2 separate regions of the Homo sapiens genome follow, and region 2 is linked to region 1. A link means that fine-mapping ties the variant in region 1 to the expression of a gene that starts in the linked region. Tissue or cell type: sun-exposed skin. Region 1 holds a variant in brackets; the other region holds the start of a gene. All regions are shown on one strand. Distances are from middle to middle.

Evidence for each region. PIP is the estimated chance that this variant, and not a neighbour inherited with it, causes the effect.
Region 2: LINC03124 starts here. The variant in region 1 is fine-mapped to the expression of LINC03124 in sun-exposed skin (GTEx, PIP above 0.99). The same link has a PIP of 0.9 or more in esophagus muscle, thyroid, tibial nerve and whole blood.

What each region holds. Positions count from the first base shown.
Region 1 is chr2:131,705,716-131,713,901 of GRCh38, reverse strand. All of the region lies in intron 5 of LINC03124 (long intergenic non-protein coding RNA 3124), which reads right to left. Among named protein-coding and RNA genes, the nearest start is that of LINC03124, 27 kb to the right of the region's middle. The variant G/T (reference allele first, on the strand shown) is at 4,791.
Region 2 is chr2:131,677,795-131,685,980 of GRCh38, reverse strand. It overlaps LINC03124 (long intergenic non-protein coding RNA 3124), which reads right to left and starts at 3,482. Exons shown (of 10, transcript NR_167889.1): 1 at 2,993-3,482; 2 at 1,162-1,272. RefSeq lists a silencer at 3,510-3,559 and an enhancer at 3,930-4,049.

The sequences.
Region 1 (8,186 bases):
ACACCTGTAATCCCAGCACTTTGGGAGGCCGAGGCGGGCGGATCACCTGAGGTAGGAAGTTTGAGACCAGCCTGGCCAACATGGGGAAATCCCGTCTCTACTAAAAATACAAAAATAAGCCAGGTGTGGTGGCGCATGCCTGCAATCCCAGCTACTCGGGAGGCTGAGGCAGGCGAATCGCTTAAACCTGGGAGGCAGAGGTTGCAGTGGCCACTGCACTCCAGCCTGGACAACAGAGCAAGACTCCCTCTCAAAAAAAAAAAAAAAAATTGGAGCTAGGCAGGTTCCATGCCCAGAGCTAGTGGTCAGGAATCAAATGGCAAGGAATCAAAACTGGTCACACAAGCCACAGTTGGGGCAAACCTGAAAAGACAGTTGCAGTGACCATGGATCCTCAAGAATGGAATAGGAAGGCAATATAAAGTTTGGTAAACAGTCAGGAAACTGGAAATGTGATGAACAAAATGAAGGATAATGTAAACGAGAGGCCAAATTTGAGATCTTCAAAAATGCAGCAAGGCACTTTTGTGTGTCAGCTCCAGTGTATGTATAAGGATCCTTTGAAGGAAAGCATTGACTCTTGAGGAGCAGGTGCTCAGGATTACATGATCGAGGTAAGGGAATGTAGGTGGAACTGGACCAACAGTTTCTCCTCAAGAAAATTCTGGCAATAAATATCTTAGACAGTTTTTAGAAGAACCTTTCCAGTCATCCATTTTCTAATTGGACAGCAAGATAAAGCTTTGTCAAATCTCTAGACAAATTTCCCTTGGGATTTACACCATGTTTTCATGATACCACAAAATATTTTGAAAGTAAAAAAACTCAGTCGTTGATGTATGCACTCATTATTAGATCCTCAGTATGTATGGTTTCAGCTAGGAAAGAAAGCATTGCCTCCTCTCTTGTTGACCTGAGTTTACTAAGTAACTGGCTAAAGTTAATTAATGAATCAATTGTACTGTAGCAACATGCATGTGAATGCTAGGCAAAACCCTCCTGTGGATGGCAGAGAATTACTGTCTTTAGGTAACTGTTTGTTTGCTTTCTATCTCTACATTCAAATCTGACCAAGGAATGCCACTAGCTAGACATGTGTAGTGATTACCAGCGAACCTCAGGCCAGGCTCACTCAGGACTGGCTACCCCCAGGATGGAGGGTTGGCATGCCAGTAAGGAACCTGGCCTTAGCAGCAAGTTGTTTTTTTTTTTTTCTGCAAGTATCGTATATTTCTTCTCCAACCAATTTTGTTCCCCTTGGTTCCTGGGAACCATTATACTGTTAGGTTAATGGATCATTGGTTTATCCACCTGTACGTTTCCTGAATTTTGGCCATTCAACCATGCATTCCTGGTGATTGGGTTTACAAGTACTAGTTTCCTAGGTCCAACATCACATTCAGATATCTCTTAACTATAAATTGGTGTAGTAACTGTGATATATCAGCATAGAGATGGCTCCATCCATTAAAAATATATTGGTGGCTTCAAAAAGTTTTATATTTGTTACTGGCATATAAAACAAATAAATGCCCAGATACAAAATTGTGCAGAACCCAGATTAGTATCTAATAAAGAATTAATAAAGAATATGTATTAATATAGATATATTTATTTACATATTAATGGTTTTTTCAAATTGGCCAAATTTTTCAAAACAATTACATATTAAAAATTGAGATATATGAAAATTCTAACTAATAGATTTATAGTCATTCCTAGGGTAGGCATTAACACCTCTTGGTAACTTCTGTAAGTTAATTATAGTTTAACTTCCTAATTAATTAATTCTGTAAGTTAATTTATAGTTTAACTTCCCAGAGGCTTTGGTGTCTTTTTTTACCCTCACTTTAAAATACACACAATAGTATATAATATATCACATTTGGTCAACAGTTCAAATTTTTTTATTCTTTAAAGCATGTACAAAAATATACTAGTTAGAATTCCTGTGAAAAATTCTAATACAGAGGAATTATATGGCTATGTTTGGAAAGATAATATTTCTTTAAAAATGTGTTGTTTTTTATGTTTTATGTTTGCAATAAGCATTATTTAAGTTTGATTGAAGAACTTCATGATTTTTATGTATTACTTTCTTGTATTGAGAAATAGTGGTCCATTGTTGGGCTGTATTTAAAATTAATGTGTATGAAACAAGAAATATTTAATTAGAGTTATTAATTTTCCACAAGTAATATGTGTATTTGACCTAAATCAGTATCTTTTATCATAACAGCCTCACATACAACAAGAATAATAGCAAGGACAACAACACCAAATCTGAATGTTTCCTTTGTGCCTATGCTCCTAACTATCATGTTATACTCATTCATATAAACCTAACAATTAATTTGAAGTTAGACACACAGGATTTACTCATCAGTATTAGAGCATTCGCTGTTATCCAGGAAGAAAACTATCCCTGGTGCTGAAACTGCCCCGTGTAGTCCTTGTGGTTGAAGAATTAAAACAGTTTCTTTTAGACATTTCCTTTCAGGAAGTATTAAATTTCACATATGTTAACATCTTAATTAATATAAGATTAATATTCTACTTATGACTATGTTTTAATATTGAAAAATGAGTTTATGATGAGTTTCATTAGTTTCTAGAGAAAACAATGGTTTAAAAAATTTCAGTACATAAGACATTGAAGCGTCTATGAATGTTCCAGAAATCTGAAAACATATACCACTAATCAAAAGTTTCTCCATTCATGTTGACTAGCATTTGCCTTAGGTGTCAGAATTAATGGATTTCTGTTAAAAATAAACACCTGAAATCCAATTCCCTAACTGCATTATAACACACTTGATTACAAGTACTTAGCTTTTATTTAATGCTTATAATGACTTTAAATTGTAGCGAAATGGGCTTCCCCCAAGAGGACTGCTTTGTTGATCCTGAGTTGGGGTCCTAAGCCAGAAGTTAACTATGCTTTCATATATTCTTGCAAGTAGAGGTACAGTGTTGGTGTAAATTCTCCTTAAATGGATAGCTAAGCCCAGAGGAAATAATGGTAATTGGCACCATATGACCGTATGCAATTCATGTGCATATCAAGAAAAGAACATTATAGGTCTGGTGAGACCCTATTTTGTTCTGACAATGTCATCTGTATTTATATGTCTGTTTCGGGAATTTGGAAGTCAAGGGATTCTGTGCTGGATTGTAAAGCTTCTGCTTTGTGTGCTTCTGCTTGATGTAGCTACTCAATTTTGTATTCTTGACTAATAAAGTCATAAACATAATTCAACCTCCGTGTGTGTGCTCTCCTTCCATTAATTTATACTTTAGCAAAAAGTATTGAATGTGTGTGTTATGTAACAGTTTCCTATAAATTATATTAAATGATTTATTAGCTTTATTCAATAAAGTTTTAAGTGTTTTCTTCTATGACTACATTACTTGTTAACAAGAAATTTCTTTAACTGAAAACTTCAAGCAAGATTATCTGGGTAACTCTTTCAAAAAGAATTGTACCTGTATTTTGGGATTGAATATATTAATTTCTTTTACTGTTTTAATAGGACATAATTTTACAAGACAAGCCACTTTTTCAAAGCCTGCTTCTCCTCCCATTTTCCCTATCTCTGTGATTGACACCTCCAACCCCTGTAGCCTGCCTCTGCTCTCTCTTAACCAAGTCCTACTGATACTACTTCCTAAGTATTTTTCAGCCCTGTCCTTCCTCTCCATCATGATGGACTCATTTCCAGTTGAAATCCTTATGGTACCCTCCCTGGATTATTGCAGTAATCAGAGAGCTGGTCTCCTTAACTCAGGATTCACTTCTTCTCATCTGTTGTTCACAGTGACACCAGAAAGATATTTTAAAATGATGAACTAGAATTAATTATATAAAACACACATACACACATAAATAATACTTAAATCTTTCAATGATGTTCCAATTATATAAAATATAATATAGGAGGCACTTTATGTTCTGGCCTCAGTCTTTCAATTCAAACTTATCTCCGGCCACTATCTCCTTTGACAATTGTATTCTGGCTACTTTAGAATAATAATAATATATAATATTCATAGAGCCCTTCCTGGGTTCCTATCACTGTACAAAATACTTCACATATAACATTTAATCTTTGACAACTTTATTAGGCAGGTACTATTATTATCTATCTATATATCTATATCTATATATATAAAATCTATATTTTATAGATAAAAAAAGAGGGTAAAAACTTGCCAAAATTGCAAAGCTTAGAAGTGTAGCCATTGGGATTTGAGTCTAGGCATCCTGCCTCTACAGTCCACAGTGGCTTTCTTGTGCCAAAAGGCTTGCAGTTCCCTAGACTTGACATTTCTCAAAATCTGTGTCTTTCACATGCTCTTCCAATTGTCTGGAAAATCTTTCCCAACCTCAGTCTACCCATGGTACTCATGTTCACCCCACAAGAAATGACTCCATCTGTCCCCTCTCCATGAAAATTTCTCTGAATCTCAGCACTTTGGGAGACTGAGGCGGGTGGATTGCCTGAGCTCAGGAGTTCAAGACTGCCCTGGGCACCATGGTGAAACCCCGTCTTTACTAAAATACAAAAAACTCACCAGGTATGGTGGCACATGCCTGTAATTCCAGCTGCTCCAGAGGCTGAGGCAGGAGAATTACTTGAGCCTGGTAGGCAGAGGTTGCAGTGAGCCAAGATTGCACCACAGCACTCCACCTTGGGCTATAGAGTGAGACTCCATCAAAAAAAAAAAAAAGAAAGAAAGAAAGAAAGTTTCCCTGGTAAGGACTCATGCCTTGGCACTGAGGGCATCTT[G/T]CAAAACTCAAGGATGCCACTTGGTGTAGCAGATAGAAAATAATTGTGATATGAGACAGGCCTGAATTGGATTTATGGCTCTATTGCATATTGGTTTTGTGATTTTGGGAAAGTCATTTAATCTTTCTGAATTTTAGTTTCTTTAGGGATTAATAGTACCTTTTCCAGGGAGCTGTTATTAGGATGAGACAATGATCAGAAAATAGCAAGAATTCATTAGTGCTCTCACCACCCTTCCTCTGTTGCAGCCCTCAGTACCTGAATGGCAATCGTGCATCTTCTCATCGGCCTGTGAATTGCTTCCCCTTTCATCTTAGGCTCTGCAGTATTCAGTGTCACTAGTGAAATGTGTGAAATGAATGAATCGACAACTGATGCTTAATACCTAACGAGACAAGTGAATGAATCCTTTTGTTCATTTTATGGCCAGAAAGATAGTGTAATTAAGTAATAACAACTGGCAAAAAAGAGAAACTCCACCTATACTTTGTCCTTTTCTCAAGTAGCATCTAAAACTTTTTCCTTCTGATTAAAAAATTATCACTGAAAGATCTCTTTGAATGTGTCTTGAATTTTGTATAAGCAGGTGATCTCAGCTCAGCATAATACTAGAAGATTATATGATTTTAAAAATTGGTTCATAGTTTTATAGTCTTGGAATATCTATCATCTATCTATCTATCTATCTATCTATCTATCTATCTATCTATCTATCTATCTAGGTATCTATCTACCTATCTACCTACCTACCTACCTACCAATCTGTCATCTTCAAATATATTTAGGCTGCTTTCCTGAGGCTGATTTTTTATTCCATTCTTTCATTTTTTTCAAGATCCTGGTATTCCCTGGTGTATTGGGTCTAGGTATTTATGATTAGGAGAAGAAATGATTCAGTGGCAGCTCCCCAGGATTTTGGATTATGAGACATGAAACTAGAAATGGCAACTTAGGTGGATTGTTTGAGAACACTGTGTATTACTGCTTCTGTATCAACTTCTATTCTCCCTTGTTCATACTTTTTTAATATGCATTTCAAGCACTATGTATTGGTGAACATTTCAACCCAAATCATATAATAATAGAAGATGCCATAGTTGGAAAGGCATAAAAGGTCATTCTAAATGTGTGAACAAATTAGAGAACTACAAAATTAGAGATCATCATAGCTATATTGCAGACAGACTTCATTGCTTTTCACAGAAATTAAGCCATAGATAACAATGACAGGTTGAAATAGGTCATGATTTCTAAAAATAATGTCATGTAAATTACCTACGTAAATACATTAAAATATGAATTATTTGAAAAAATGAATAGTAGGTCCTCAGAATAGCCCTACACATAAGTATATAATAAAAGCATGAGTTCAAGAGCAGAATGTTAATGAAGCTCCCTGTCTTGGTTTCTTTAATAAGATTCTTCTATTCTGCTTTCTGGAACTATTATGTTCCCATTATAAACTTTGTACCAAGTTAAAAGTAAGGCCCCTTTTGCCCCTTTTTTCTGTCTTCCTGGCTCTCTAGTCCTAGGAAGTTAAAAAGAGTCAGAAAATCCCATCTTTTCTTCCAGGAAGTTTGGGAGAAAAGTCAAGATAGGCTATAAGGTGTTGCACTTGATAATCCAACCATCCTTCTACTGATGGTAGAGTCTCATTATCCTTCCTCAGATATATGCAATGACAAAAATAGATAATGAGAAAGCATGCATCCAAGTAACTCTTTGAGTGTATAAGGGCTGATTAAGTTGAAAGAAGATTGCCAGGCGAGGTGGTTCATGCCTGTAATCCCACCACTTAGGGAGACTGAGGCAGGCAGATCACTTGAGGTCAGGATTTCGAGACCAGCCTCACCAACATGGTGAAACCCCGTCTCTACTAAAAATACAAAAAGTATTCGGGCGTGGTAGCGCATGCCTGTAATCCCAGGTACTCGAGAGACTGAGGCAGGAGAATCACTTGAACCCAGGAGGCAGAGGTTGCAGTGAGCTGAGATGATGCCACTGCACTCCAGCCTGGGCAGAAGAGTGAGACTCCATTAAAAAAATTGCAAAGTATCTACTAATCTAAAAAATGCACAGCCTCAGTTCTCAAAGAGTTTATGTTGTAGGATCATGTCAGTTCCATGTATAATTTGTTTATCACAACTGCACACTGTTACGTAAAGGAAATGCACAACTTGAGATATTTGTTTTGGCTAGAAAACTGAGAAACATTAATAGAGGCAATTAGTGAACTGTCTTTTCAAGGAGGTTTTTAAATGGAATGTATTCATGATAATGTCAATGCAGGGCTACCTAGAGACAGAGGGAAGAATTAAACAAGTTTTTTTTTTTAACTTAACTTTTGGACTCAGTTATTAAGAAAGCATTTAAAAGTAAAGTCAAATTCAAATCTTTCTATCCTGTGAGCTCTGCCTCTCATCTCTGTCAGGCTCCAACTCCATCAAAGACTGGCGGTCACATGAATGGAGTGGAAAATATTCTCTAGTTTATTTGTTTGTGTATTTTTTCTTTAATGTTCCAACTCACATAATAAGTTTAACATGAAAATTAAAAGCAATCACATGTAATTCTCAATATCAGAGTAGATGAGAGTGGCTGCCTTCTCACCAATACCCAGAATGCACTGCAGTTTTCCCAGCTGCCCTTGCACCTTCTCAATAGCCACGTGACCAGCTTTGGTGACTGCTGTGTGTCAGTGAAGGGAGTATTTTCCCCTTTTCCCTAGCTAACATGCAGATGTGGTGATGAGCTCTTTTGGGCCACAAAGGCCATGCCATAGTGACTGGATAAAAGAAAAATAGAAGATACCCAAGCACTGACCTCCCTGTAAAGCTATGCCACCTTAACAACTTGTTCTATTATGTGACTGGGAAATAGTCTCTTTTCTTGTCTAAGCCACTCTTATTTTGAACTTCTATCACAGCCACCAAACCTGCATCTTAACTAACACAAAACTTTGTACCTGGAAGAGGAGCTGAACAGAAGATAATCTGAAATACATGGCATTTACTCAGAATTCCGCAGCATGTGACAGTGATAAAGCTGGTGAGTTTTGCTAGGCCATGGACAAATGTTTGTTAAAACCACCATCTATGATGTCATGGAAGGTAGAGCACATGGCATCTGAACCTCTAACTCCAAAGAACATGGAGGAAAACATTTCAAGTGTCTGGTATAAGATGCTTGCTTCTTGCTACTTTTAGTAAAGGCTCCAAGAGAGGAACTCAAGCTGGAGCTAACCAACATAAAACAGGGCAGGAAAGGACTATAACTACACCAAGAAGACTCTCTGCCTGTGGCTTGAGATTGAAGTTGGCTAAAGTCTGGGAGGAGCTTCACAGTAAGCCTGCCAACTACTTCCCTACACTGAAGCAGCTGGAAGAAGTGGGTCTG
Region 2 (8,186 bases), 28 kb after region 1:
TATTCAACATATACATGTATGAAAACCTTCCTTGTACCTTCTAATTGTATACATTTAGTATATGACAAATAGTGTTTTAGGAAGTATAAAGAAACAATGCCAAAATTTATGTGGAAATGTGAAACACCCTGAATTTCCAAAGCTATTCTGAGAAATACAAACCATACGGGATGCATCACATTCCCTGAGTTCTAATTAAATGAAAATCCGTAGTTAACAAACCCATATGTTACTGGCATAGACAGAGAAACACAGACCAGTGAGCAAAATGAATGTGCTCAATAATAAACAAAAATTTATATGGAATGAACACATTTTTCAAAACACCACCAAAATGACACAACAGGGAAGACTTCCGAAACTAGATATCCATATGCAAAAGGGTAATACAGGACCCTTATGGTACTAGATACACAATAATCAACTCAAAATGATTAAAGATTATACACAAAACTTGCAACCATAAAGCTCCTATAAAGACAACCTCGGGTGTGCGTATATTTAGAGCAACTTGGATGTATGCTCAGGGTTCACAAAAAGTAAACAAAAATACAAGGGAAAAAAATTATTGACAAGGGACTGCTTTGGTAGTGATTTTGTTTTTTCTTGATTAGTAACCAACAGCACAGCCACCAAGAAATTATGCACATGTGGGACCACGTCAAGCTGAAGCATTTGTGACCAACAAAGGAAACAATAAACAAAATAAAAAGGCACACTAAAAATTACAAGTTTGGGATAAGGGATTATTTTTGAAAAGGTACAAGCCAGTCATACTACCAGCTGGCAAAAAAATAACAAAACAACAGAACAATTGCCAGACAAAAACTGGGCAAATAACCGGATTAGATATTTTTCCAAAGAAGACAGGAAACTGACCGAATGTCTACAAAAACGTGGTTAACATTACTACTCATGAGAAAAATGCAGATCAAAACCACACTCAGATCTTATCTCACTCCAATAGAATGAACATTACAAAAAGATCAAAATATTTAAAAAGACAATTCCTGGTATGAATTGCCAGAAAGGGGAACTGTTTGTGCAAACATAAATTAGTATTAACACTATAAAAAACAGTTAGAGGTCTTGCAAAGAATAGGAAAAAAAGAAATACCATTCCATCTAGCAGTCCCATTACTGGGTGTAAATTCAACCTACCTGTTCATCCACAGATAAAGAGATCAAGAAACTCTCATATACATACACTAGGAAATATTCTTCAGCCATCAAAATAATGAAACAGTCCCATTTAGAGCAACGCAGATGAACCTGGAAAACATTATGTTAAATGTAAGGAGCTAGGCCTAGAAAAACACTGCATGATACCACTCATGTGAAATCTTAAGATGTTTATCTTAATGAAGTAAAAAGCACAATATTGGTTACCAGAGTTTGGGAGATAGAGGGGGAATGGGGAAGGATTGATTATGGAAACAAAGTTATCTTAACATTAAAGGAACAAATCTGAGGTTCTCCTCCTCAGCCTGGTGACTGGAGTTAACAATATCATATTTTTCTAGAGTAAGAAGGGAGAATTTTGAATGTTCTCCCCACAAAAAAAAAAAAAACCTGGATGAGCAAATAGAGATCCTAAGTACCCTGATTTGATCATTACCCAATCTGTATGTATGAAAATGTACCCCTAATTATGGACCTTTATGTTGTGAAAAAAAGTTAACAGAAATAAATACGTATTGCTAAAAATCACAGGGAACCACAAAAGCAATGAATATCTAAAGGAATCCTGAGAAATACAAAGTGAAGACCCACAATCCTTAATATCAAATTACACTGCCAAGTTGTAGTTATACAGCTGATATATGATACTTGCATAAACTATGGACAAAAACAGGGAGGACAAAAACATGATCAACACAAATATGGACACAATCAACTGACTTTGATAAAGAACACTGCAATGTGGAAGGCAGAGAATGAATACCTTTGACAAAAATGATATCCAGATGCAGAAGCGAGAAATAGGACCTTATTTTACACGATGTATGAAAATGAACACCCACTCCCCCAAATTGAAGGCAAAACAAAAGACCATAAACTACAAAATGTTTTTAACTAAAACACAGGATGAGCATATATTTTGGGTCACTTGAATCTCTGCTCACCTTTGCAAAGAGGAAAATAAACACCCTGGAAGAAAAACCTCATTGACAATTAAATGCTTTGTCACTGACATATTATTTTCTTATATGGGTGACGAAAATTACATGCATGAAACGCAAAAATAAATATCATGTTGACTACATCAACATGAAAAGTTTCTGCACATCAAAGAAAACTACTTTCCAATTAAAAAAGCATCCTATAGATTAGGCAAAAATTTCAGGCAATCTTGTAATTCACGAGGAGTTGTCATCTAATATGTACACAAAAAACACTACAAAGTAGCAAAAGCATCCAATCTAATATTTTGCAAAGAACCTGAACAGACAATTCTGCACAGCCATAAAATCGAACAACAAATAAGAGATAAGGTCCTCAAAATCAACTATTCATTAGAAAACTGTAATTCAAAACCACACACAGATAATCTCACACTTATCGAATATTCCTTGATTTTTTTAAAAAAATAGGAGGGGCTGGGAACGGTGTCTCATGCCTGTAATCTCTGCACTTTGCGAGGCTGAGGCAGGTGGGTCACCTGAGGTCAGGAGTTTGAGACCAGCCTGACCAATATCGTGAAACCCCATCTCTACTAAAAATACAAAAATGAGCTGGGCATGGTGGCGGCGCCTGTAGTCCCAGCTACTCTGGAGGCTGAGACAGGAGACTTGCTTAAAACCAGGCAGCGGTTGCAGTCGGCCGAGATGGCGCCACTGCACTCCAGCCTGTAAGACAGAGCAAGACTCCGTCTCAAAACAAAAACAAAAACAAAACAAACCCCAAACCAAAAATAGTAGGAATGCGGGTGTGGTTTTGGAGAAAGGGAAACTCATACACTGTAGGTGGAAATGAAAATTAGGATACACACCATGGAAAACAGCTAAATAGCTGGAGACTCCTCAAAGAACTGAAAATACAGATGCCCCCTGCTCTAGCGAGGTCTCTTTTTAAAGGTGCTGAGGCATCAAAAATAATCCTAGACTCCAGCTCAGAGGCCCCTGGGGCTCCGAGGGACCCAGGTCCCGCGTTTTACCGCCAGCTGTGGGCCAGGGCGCTCCTATACGCTGGACGCGGGTCGGACATTGGCATAGCCTTCCCGGCCGGGGTGCGGACGCTGCAGTAGCCAGGACCGCACAACCGCCCCCAAGCGGAGGACTCGGGCCCAGATGCCCACGAAGAAGTGCGGGCACGAAAACAGGGAGAGGCAGGGAAGGAGCAGGGAGGGTTCCCGGTGGGGTCCACGCCCCCGCCACTGACCGCGGAGACCTGTCTCCTACTCCACCATCACATGGAACCCACCACCGCTCAGAAGCTCGCTCTGACCACGCTGCTGCTGCTGCAGGGGCGTCGCAGGAACTGCAGTCTCAGCTCCGTAGGGACACGCACGCTAGCAGCATCCCTAGTGCCAGGTTGAAGCTCCACCCCCTCTTAAAGGGACCGCGGCTCGGACTTGCCAGAAGCCGCTTAGGGTTGCGGCACAGGCTGAGCCTCTGCCCAGCCCAGGGGACGACGAAAGGCCCCTGGTCTCTCATCCTCCCCAGCTTTCGGGCCCTAGAAGTCGCAGGAGCGCTCCCTGTGACCGCCTCCCGGAGATCGGCTCCCTTTGCCTAGGGAGCGCCCAGGACCTGCCCCTGCCCTCCTCTGGACCTCAGCTTCACCATCCGCAAAGGAAGCAGCCTCGCTAGAGCTCTGGGGGTCCCTCAAGCTTGGCGTCTCAGGATCCAGGGTGGGCTCCCCTGCCCCTCTGCAGAGGGGGCCCAGAGAACCACAGAAAGCTGGGGGCTGGAGGGACAGTTCGGAGGGCAGCAGGGCCTCCCCGGCCTCACTGTCCGCATCTGTCCTGTGGGAGCTCGCGGGCCTCGCTATGGCCCAGGCACCCACAGCCTCACCAGGGCTGCCTGGGTCACCGGGCTCTCCAGGAGGCAGGCAGGGGCCCTGGGGTCCAGCGCTGCCCCCATCTCAACTCTTTCCTTCATCAGGGCCCACGAGGGGCCCTGTGGACTGGACCCAGGCCCGCCCATTCCCAGGGAGAGGCTATTAATTATTTCCTCAATTTCAGAGCCTGTTATTGGTCTATTCAGAGATTCAGCTTCTTCCTGGTTTAGTCTTGGGAGGGTGTATGTGTCCAGGAATTTATCCATTTCCTTCTAGATTTTCTAGTGTACTTGTGTAGAGGTGTTTGTAGTATTCTCTGATGGTAGCTTGTATTTCTGTGGGATCAGTGGTGATATCCCCTTTATCATTTTTTATTGCGTCTATTTGATTCTTCTCTCTTTTCTTCTTTATGAGTCTTGCTAGCGGTCTATCAATTTTGTTGATCTTTTCAAAAAACCAGCTCCTGGATTCATTGATTTTTTTGAAGGGTTTTTTGTGTCTCTATTTCCTTCAGTTCTGCTCTGATCTTACTTATTTCTTGCCTTCTGCTAGCTTTTGAATGTGTTTGCTGTTGCTTCTCTAGTTCTTTTCATTATGATGTTAGGGTGTCAATTTTAGATCTTTCCTGCTTTCTCTTGTGGGCATTTAGTGCTATAAATTTCCCTCTACACACTGCTTTAAATGTGTCTCAGAGATTCTGGTATGTTGTGTCTTTGTTCTCATTGGTTTCTAAGAACATCTTTATTTCTGCCTTCATTTTGTTATATACCCAGTAGTCATTCAGGAGCAGGTTGTTCAGTTTCCATGTAGTTGAGTGGTTTTGAGTGAGTTTCTTAATCCTGAGTTCTAGTTTGATTGCACTGTGGTCTGAGAGACAGTTTGTTATAATTTCTGTTCTTTTACATTTGCTGAGGAGTGCTTTACTTCCAACTGTGTGGTCAATTTTGGAATAAGTGCTGTGCGGTGCTAAGAAGAATGTAGATTCTGTTGATTTGGGGTGGAGAGTTCTGTAGATGTCTATTAGGTCTGCTTGGTGCAGAGCTGAGTTCAATTCCTGGATATCCTTGTTAACTTTCTGTCTCGTTGATCTGTCTAATGTTGACATTAGGGTGTTAAAGTCTCCCGTTATTATTGTGTGGGAGTCTATATTTTGGTTGCAGATGAGTTTATAGTCAAAGTAAAAAACACACGAAGGGCATTCACATTTCCAGGAACAGAAGCATCCTGTCTGGTTTTTCAGAGGTGAAGGGAGCAGTCTGAAGGGGCTGTGGCACAGGTGTGTCTATAATCAAAGCTCACAGCCGAGGCCCTGGGGGAGGTTCAGGTATGCCCCAGGGGGTGCGCCTCATCCAGCACTTCACTGCCAGGGGCCTCATCTTTATTAAATTCTGGGCCTTTTCCTGGGCAATAGTTACACAAGGTGCGTTCAATGAACCCTATGTCCTGTGGCTGCCACCCATTGCAGGGTCACAAAGGTAATGATCACCACCCCCTCCACCTTCTGCTGAGGGTCCGGGTGACCCCCTGGTGGTGTAACCCAGGCCCTCACCCCTAAGGGGTCCTGAGTCTTGCTCACCACGGAGTCCTTGGTCTAGGGCTCCCACACTTGTCCACGTACCATCAAATGCTGTGTATTGAGAGGCGCTTGTGTAGAGCCCCTCCTGCCCCAGGCAGCATAACCCTGCTTCTGCTGAAACCACGGTCCAGGTGGTACACATTTTTCTGCCCGCAGGTCCCATGGAGGAGCAGCCTGAGGACAAAGCAGCACCCAGAGCTTGTTTTTTCAGAGAATTTGGCCTTGTCCTGTCTAGAAGCCCCACAGCTGTGGAAACCAGGACCTCCTGCTTTTCAGAGCCTAGATGTGCAGGATATAGATGCACCTCAGAGGTCCTGGGTGTGAGGTGGAAGGTTGGGGGACACTGGGCTTCCTACTGCTGTGCTCCCATTGCCGCATCTTCTACCTGGTGGGACAAGGCAGCTAGCAAGGGTGACAGATTCACCCAGACACTGTGTCCTCCCACATCCTGACCTGGCACCTGAGCCAAACTGCTGGGTCTGAAGCTCCCAGGAGCATGTGTGTGCTGTGACCAGTGGACCTATGGCATGCGCCCTCTTCCTCCCTCTATGGCATGGTATCAATTCCTCTGATGGTGTCATGTGAGGTCTCGTCCTGATGGGTAGAACTTTCTATAAACCATCCCATGGCCCTGGGGAAAGGCAAGCTCATCCCTTCAGGTTTAGCTGTTTCTGTTAAATGCAACCCTGTTCTTCCCAGGGCATCAGGGCCCGGTGCAGTTGTCCCAGCCTGACAGGAAGTCCCCTTGATGGTTGTGTGGAGGGTGCAGGCTGGGCCTAGCTCATGACCCTGGCAAAGGGCAGGTGAGCCCTGGGGCTGACCACCTGCACTTTCTGTTTGGTGGTGGGAGATGTGGGGCAATATTTCTTGCCTTCCCTTTAGAGAGCATCTCCCAGCCTGCCCAGACCACTAGACCCCTAAAAATGTGACTTGTAGGCAGGTCCTGCCTGGCTCTCTGTGGTGCTTTTCTCTCCCCTCCAAGCATCTGTGACTCCCAGGCCTCCAGCCCTGCTGGCTTCCCCCATCTGAGCTCCTGATGCAGGGGGAGGACTGTACTGTGGCAGGCAGCATGCCGGTTTACACAGTTCTGGGACAAAACTATAGGTATACCTTATTTTATGTCCCAGGTAAATGAATCCAATTTCTTGATGCTTTTTTGACACAGAGGGAAGAAATGCATTGGTGAGCTCCATGGGCCAGAGCTCAGGTCCATGCTCAGGCTCTGGGAGCAGCTGCGCAGCTCTGGAGCTGTTGCGGGGCCCAGGGAAGGGGTGGGTGCTGTGTCTTTGCTCACTGTGTTAAAGGCTTTATTTGTTTCTTTGTTCAGCTTGTTTTCTTTGACCCCTGTTTAGCAATACTGAAAATCAAGCATTTCTAAGAGGCGGAAACCTTGATTTGGAGCAGGGGCGGGGCATTGGGTGGAAATGGAAAATAGGTTGATAGTGGGAATTTCATTTTCTGGAGCTCACGTGCAGCCTCTTGATGGCCCCGTCACAAGTTCACCTGATGACCTGAGTGGCCACTGTCTTTCTCCTGAGTGGTTTGTATGCTTATCTACCAGCATTTATTATTTTTATTTTTTTGCATGATAAGTTTCCAAGGAACCTTAGTGATGGGGACTGTCTCTCTTAAAATTAAGTTGTGTAAATAACTCCCAGAGCCGTGCTGGTAAGAAACAAAACAAAACAAAAAGAACTAGAAGCTTGAAACAAACATAGGATTTCTGCTGGAAAAAGGATGCAAAGCAGGCCTGCCTGCAGCACTTCCCCAGAGCTAATCCTTGAGCCGAAAGAGCTTCCTGGTGAAGCCTCGCACTCTCTGTAACAGGGCGTGGGGGGACCGAGACATGAGGGCTCCAGATTTGACCATGTTTACCTAGTTATGGGATTTCAATCATGTCTTTTAAATTCTTTGAGCTGCAGTTTTCACATATATAAAGTGAAAATATTTTTAAATCTTTAATTTGTATTATAACCTTGTGTAAAGATAAAATAGTACACTTGAAAGCATTTTAGCTGAAGTCAAACGTTCACGTGTGTGCATGCGATGGCTTCTTAATTATTTTAGGGCTTATCCTGGTTTTACTGGTACTGTTACTAGCACTGCTGCTTCTCCATATCTCTGAAAACTATGAAATACTTAGAACTGAAGCAACAAGAAGCACCTGTCAAAGCGTTCTATGGCCGATGACAGATTTGACACAACTAGATATAACAATATGTTAGATGGTGCCTACAGCACTGCTGAGCAGAGACTTCATGCTGTTCAAAGTCAAAGGTGTCCCTAGAATTCTGAACTTGCTGAAGCCGCCCTCAGAACTGAAGTTGAGAAAAGTACATTTTCAATTAAAGAAAGTCTGAGAGAATGTGTTGCCATCACACCCAAACCACAATAAATGCAAAAGAAAGCTGCTCAGGTTGAAGAAAAATGATAACAATTGGAAATTCTAGTTCTCAGAAAAGATGAAAGTGTGCCAAAAATAGTAAACATGTGGAGGGGAAATTGCTATTTTAATGACATCCTCCAGGAATTACAACATGTGCAGAAGAAAAATCTATGACAACATGGCACAAAAGATCAGAGGAGGGAGGAGGGTAAGGTAAGGTTTTTA